Linked DNA regions of Homo sapiens: region 1 is linked to region 2. A link means that fine-mapping ties the variant in region 2 to the expression of a gene that starts in the linked region. Tissue or cell type: blood mononuclear cells. Region 2 holds a variant in brackets; the other region holds the start of a gene. All regions are shown on one strand. Distances are between the middles of the regions.

Region 1 (2,923 bases), 54 kb after region 2:
GGTGGGCAGATCATGAGGTCAGGTGATCGAGACCATCCTGGCTAACACAGTGAAACCCCATCTCTACTAAAAATACAAAAAATTAGCTGGGCGTGGTGGTGGGCACCTGGAGTCCCAGCTACTCAGGAGGCTGAGGCAGGAGAATGGCGTGAACCCAGGAGGTGGAACTTGCAGTGAGCCAAGACCGCACCACTGCACTCCAACCTGGGCGACAGAGCGAGACTCCGTCTCGAGAAAAAAAAAAAAAAAAGAATTAATCATGTTACACCAGGCGCGGTGGCTCACGCCCATAATCCCAACACTCTGGGAGGCCGAGGTGGGCAGATAACTTGAGGTCAGGAGTTTGAGACCAACCTGGCCAACATGGTAAAACCCCGTCTGTATTAAAAATACAAAATATTAGCCGGGTGTGCGGACGCCTGTAATTCCAGCTATTTGGGAGGCTGAGGCATGAGAATCGCTTGAACCTGGGAGGATGAGGTTGCAGTGAACTGAGATCACACCACTGCACTCCAGCCTGGGTGACAGGATGACATTCTGTCTCAAAAAAAAAAAATTAATTGTGTCAGGGTATTTACAGAATAATTTAAGTAGAACATTAAAAGATATATATATGTACACACACACATACTATGTAACAATTTTAATAAATACACCATGATTATCAACCAGAACAGAACCAAAGAAAATTAGAACTATTATAGTAGATTGAGTGGAATTTTTTTAGGGAATCTTAACATTTTAAAATCATGTGGTAACAATATCATCACCTATGCTCCTATGTTCTGAATTTCTTCCTTCAATGGCTTCCCTTTAGCCACAGTTATCAGATCTGTCAGTAAAGTCCTAGAAAACATGTTTTTGAGGATGCTGAGGTGTTTTCTCCCTTGGCCTGTGTTTAAAATATTGTTCTTCCCCCATAACAAGTGCTCTCTTTAATCCTACATTTTAGACATTCTTTTGTATTTTCCCTTTTCTTATAGTGCAGATCTTCTAGAAGCTGTAACAATTGTAATTACCAATGATTCATGCCTTAGAGGTAATGAGTGTCAGACCTTGTCCTGAGAGAAACTATTAAAGGAAGGAGAGGTTGGGGAAGAAAGGAGACAATGACTGTTTGCCCCAATACTGAGGCATAGAAGTTCCCTGGGGAAGAGGTGGGGTTCAGAAAAGAGAGATCAGGGAAAGTCACTCCTCCTGACACAAATCTTTCTGAGGCATCTGCCTCTTTTTAAGCTCTGAGTTCTAGTTATCCTGGCTCAGGATAAAAATAATCCCACCACTGGTATCCTCCCTTTTTCTACTTCCGAGGCTGCAAAGTGCAACAGCAGACTCTTCTGACTCAGGAAGGCCGGTGCTCCTACCCACTTCCTGTTCCTCCATCTCCAGCGGACACTGCTCTTTCAAGGGCAGGTCTCCAGCCCAGCTCTCTGAAAACATTTTGCTGAAAATATAAGCAAACATCGGCCTTGTCCTCCTTGTGTTCATACACTGTGGAAGCTTTTCTCTGCCTCCTCCGTGAGAGTGCGTGGCCGGGAGACCAGAAACGTGGTCCTTTCTCTTGCCTGTGAGCTGGTGCAGAGGTAAGTCTGAGTATTTGTGCGTGTCATATTTGGATGTGTATGTGTGGGTGTTTGTGTTGTACATGTGTGTTTACATGTTTGTATGTGTTAACATGAATGTGTGTGAGTGATGTTTGTGTGTGTGATGTTTGTGTTGTGTGTGTATGTGAGTGTTGTGTGTGTGTTGTGTATGTATATTTGTGTTTGTGTATGTGTTTGTGTGTTCACCTGCATGTGTGTGAGTGGTACATGTGTTTTGTGTATGTGTGTGTGTTGTGTATTTGTGTGTGCTGTGGTGTGTGCAGGTTTGTAATGTGATAAAAAGAGCTGTGACCAACACGTCTGGAGAACTTTTTGCCTTGTGACAAAGTCACTGTTTAATATTTGGCAAGATGCTTCTCTGAGTTTTGCTTTCTTCCAGAGCAATATGACAAGGATGGTACTATCTGTTCCATCTTCTGTGTTGGAGACAATGCACACTGTGGCCAACATGGGAGGTGCCATTCCGGGGAGGGTCTAGGAGGAGGCAGGGAGGTGCCTTGCGTGCAGACCCATTCCCCGAACCCTGCGAAGGCACAGTGCAGGTTCCTGCATGCCACAGCCTAGTCCCACCCGGCTGTTGTTTCCTGTTAAGCTGCCTGCCCGTTCTCTCTAAAGGAGGAATGAGATTACATTGGTAAAGTGCTGCCTCAATTTCCACCAGGGATGTAAGGAAGCCAGGGACAAAGAGATTGAGAGGCCACCAGTTAGGAAGAACTAACTCCCTTTGGTAGGTGAAATATTGTACTCCTTCCAGAATCTGGCTGTTCAGGTCTGAGTAAGGCTGTCCGCCTGGCCTGCTTCTTCTTTCTTCCTAGAAAGTCAACAGACCTTCCTGGACTCCCTCCATGCCCAGCCCAGCACTGCAAAATTGATCTTTACCAATCATAAAGCAATATCCGCATATATACTTCTGGGATCTGGGGAGGACTGGAGTGTTTGCCAGGTGAACAGAATAGAACAAACATCTAACAATGTGGCAATGAGAAAAACATGTCTATCAGGTTCCCCTGGACTTAGGTTTCCCCACACCCCAGACCCTTCATCTGGATCTGTTTCATCTGGTTGTGAATGTCCTACATGATCTGGAAAAACAGTCATGGACCATGCAACTTCCTCCTCAGTCCCACAGAGAAAATCCAGCAGAGAGAACCTTATGGGATCTTGGCACAGAGAACTGTGTTAGTCTATGAAGCCAGGACACATTGCTGTCATGGGAAAGGGGACAGGAGTTCCTGGTTGGGAATGATGTGGCCCTAATTTGCAAAAAGGACTAAGAATTGCTCTAAAAAATGTTATGAAGTATGTTGAGACCTTAATAG
Region 2 (2,923 bases):
CCTGGGAGGTGGAGGTTGCAGTGAGCCGAGATTGCGCCACTGCACTCCGGCCTGGGTGACAGAGAGAGACACTGTCTCAAAACAAACAAACAAACAAACAAACAAAGAAAACAAAACCCCACAATTTTCAGCTGCTGGTGGTGGTAGCTGTGGGAGTTAGAATAAGATCCTTCACCCTTGTTTATTTTGCCCCAACATCATCAGAAGAGCCAAACACACACACACACACACACACACACACACACACACACACACACACACACGTGAAGTCACCTTCTTACCCCAGTGACTGTGTTCATTTTGGTCCATTGGTGTTCCTGAGAAACAGAGAGACAAGAAACTTATTTTTCAGTTCTAAATCATGAAAAATTCTTATATTTCTTTTCTTTTCTTTTTCTTTCTTTCTTTTTTTTTTTTTTTTTTTTGAGACACAGTTTCACTCTGTCACCCAGGCTGGAGTGCAGTGGTGCGATCTCGGCTCACTGCAACCTCCACATCCTGGGTTCAAGTGATTCTCCTGCCTCAGCCTCCCGAGTAGCTGGGATTATGGGTGTGCACCACCATGCCCATCTAATTTTTGTAGTTTTAGTAGAGACAGGGTTTCACCATGTTGGCCAGGCTGGTCTCAAACTCCTGACCTCAAATGATCCACCAGCCTCGGCCTCCCAAAGTTCTGGAATTAAAAGCGTGAGCCATCACACTAGGCCAAGATCCTTATATTTCTAAACAACCATGTTTCATTTGTCTACTCATAAGGGACAAGGTGGGTGGGAAAGGAATGACTTCCTACTTTACAGAGAACTGGAATCACTTGCTGAGGGGCTGAGAAGTGGGTTTCATTTGTAAGCCTCATGCCCAGCTCTCTCTCGCTTTCTTCCTCCCGTCCTCTCACAGATCAGCCCGGCTCCCTTCTGTTTTTGTTTTGCCTGCACACTCTTCGCTTCTGTCAGCTTTCTCTGTAGGTGTGCCTTCCCTTACACCTTAGGCTCAGTCCTCCCTTTCCCTCTCTTTCTTTTCCCACCTTGCCTCCTTCCCTCCTCTACTCTCTCCAAACCTCCTCCCTCATGTTGAGTCTTTGCTGAGAGACTCAGTGAATGAAGATTATGACTCTGGGAAACCGTGCAGTCCTTTAAGCTGGAAATACACTTCACTTGATCCATTAATGGCTTGAATTTTTCTCATTCCCCAACAGCCCCTGGTTATGAAGCCCTTGCAATGTAGGAACTACTATGGAGTGAGAAATATCGGTACGTTTTCATCAGCTAGTTTCTCTTGCTTAAATCTGGCAGGCATAGACCAAGCGTACAAGCACAGAAAACTGAAAGCCACCGATTAATGCCCAAATTCTTCCCAGTTAGCACTTTTTATTGACTTTATACTATGGAAATTCTTTCTTTGCCAGTAATGTGTAAAGTAAATTACATCGGTTTCCTGTAAACTGGCTCCACTTAAGGAAAAGGCAGTCACTCTAAATTGCTTCTCTTAAAATAGGACAAATTTGTTCTAAGAAAAATGAAAATGTTTGTGCATGGCTTGGGACCTAGAAATCAACACTGCAGAACTTTTCGTAAATCTGGGCTTACCTGATTTACTGTTCAAAGAAACAGTTGGCTCCCTGTTCAGTCCTGTTGTCTTATAGCTCAGCTCCAAGAGAAAAAGAAAGTAAAACCGAGACTCCAGTCGGTCTTCTTCCTCTCTTGAATCTTCCTGAGCTTCCTGACTGCTAATGAAC[G/A]CCACCACGTGCCTGTGTTTGAAATTCTCTTTCATGCCATTATGCAAAATAAACAGTTTAAATGGAAAGTTAATCAGTAGTTATTTGCTGTCATGTGGGCCAACTGTCTCTTCTTCTCAAAAGTGAAAAAAGAGTGTTTTAATGATTTCATCTGGACTGGAAAGAAAGGCATGAATGCCAAGGAAGTTGGTGGATTTCAGTCCTTCCCAGCTGGGATATGTCCCAACAGTTAGAAGTTTGTCTAGATGCAAATGGCCCCCTGAGAAGGGCTTAAACCTCATTGACACCAGCAGCAGGGATTGTTCTAAAGCAGATGCCACTGGGAGAGAAGAGGAGCCTCTGATAGGCACTGCCCAGGGGAAGAAGGGCACAGAAAGGGGAACCTGAGAGGGGACATTTTTGTCTGAGTCTGATTGTAAGGATCATTAACCATCAAAACATTTTTACATAACTCATTCATGGCTTCTAGGATTCTGGGCCTTTCTTCCCTGTCCAGCTCTGTAATTTCAGAGAACCTCCCTGTGGGGAGAAATTGTCTAGGAAATGTCTATAGTAATACTCTGGAGTGTTGGCTGGGTCAAATGGTATTTCTAGTTCAAGATGCCTGAGGAATCGCCACACTGACTTCCACAATGGTTGAACTAGTTTACGGTCCCACCAACAGTGTAAAAGTGTTCTTATTTCTCCACATCCTAGCATTTAAAACATTTCCTTTTGATTGTCTTGGAGTTTCCAGGTTTATCATAGACTCAGTTGCAAATAGTGATAATTTTCCCTCCTTGTTTCCAAAAATATCTTATGTTGCTTTCTCTTGTATAATTACAATTGCTTGCTACCTTTTCAAAAGTGAGTTAATGTGCTTTTATTATTTATTTACCTGTAGGGCACCTAATATCTTATCATTAATATTGATGTTGGTTATTGGAAATTAATTAGTTTATTTTAAAATCAGTGTGGCTATACTTTGCTTAGTCCTATTTCATTAAAGTCTTTTATCTGTGGTATAAATTTAGAAAATTTTATTTTGACGTTGACTGATATAATTCCATGTCTTTTTCCTTTTGACCTACTAATATTGCAAATTACATCACTGCGTTTCCTAACATAAGTGATATGTACATGTACATGTGCAAAGGTTTGGGTTCCTAGGAATACAGACTGTTGAGATGAAGATAAAATGGATGAAGGAAG

The links. PIP is the estimated chance that this variant, and not a neighbour inherited with it, causes the effect.
Region 1: GIMAP6 starts here. The variant in region 2 is fine-mapped to the expression of GIMAP6 in blood mononuclear cells (TOPMed, PIP 0.94).

What each region holds. Positions count from the first base shown.
Region 1 is chr7:150,630,829-150,633,751 of GRCh38, reverse strand. It overlaps GIMAP6 (GTPase, IMAP family member 6), which reads left to right and starts at 1,367. Exons shown (of 3, transcript NM_024711.6): 1 at 1,367-1,583. RefSeq lists enhancers at 1,417-1,506, 1,517-1,606, 1,877-1,956.
Region 2 is chr7:150,684,446-150,687,368 of GRCh38, reverse strand. It overlaps GIMAP2 (GTPase, IMAP family member 2), which reads right to left and starts at 1,663. Exons shown (of 3, transcript NM_015660.3): 1 at 1,584-1,663; 2 at 282-317. The coding sequence starts at 309. It overlaps LOC124901774 (a long non-coding RNA gene), which reads left to right. Exons shown (of 4, transcript XR_007060589.1): 2 at 1,193-1,247. RefSeq lists an enhancer at 1,589-1,788. The variant G/A (reference allele first, on the strand shown) is at 1,733.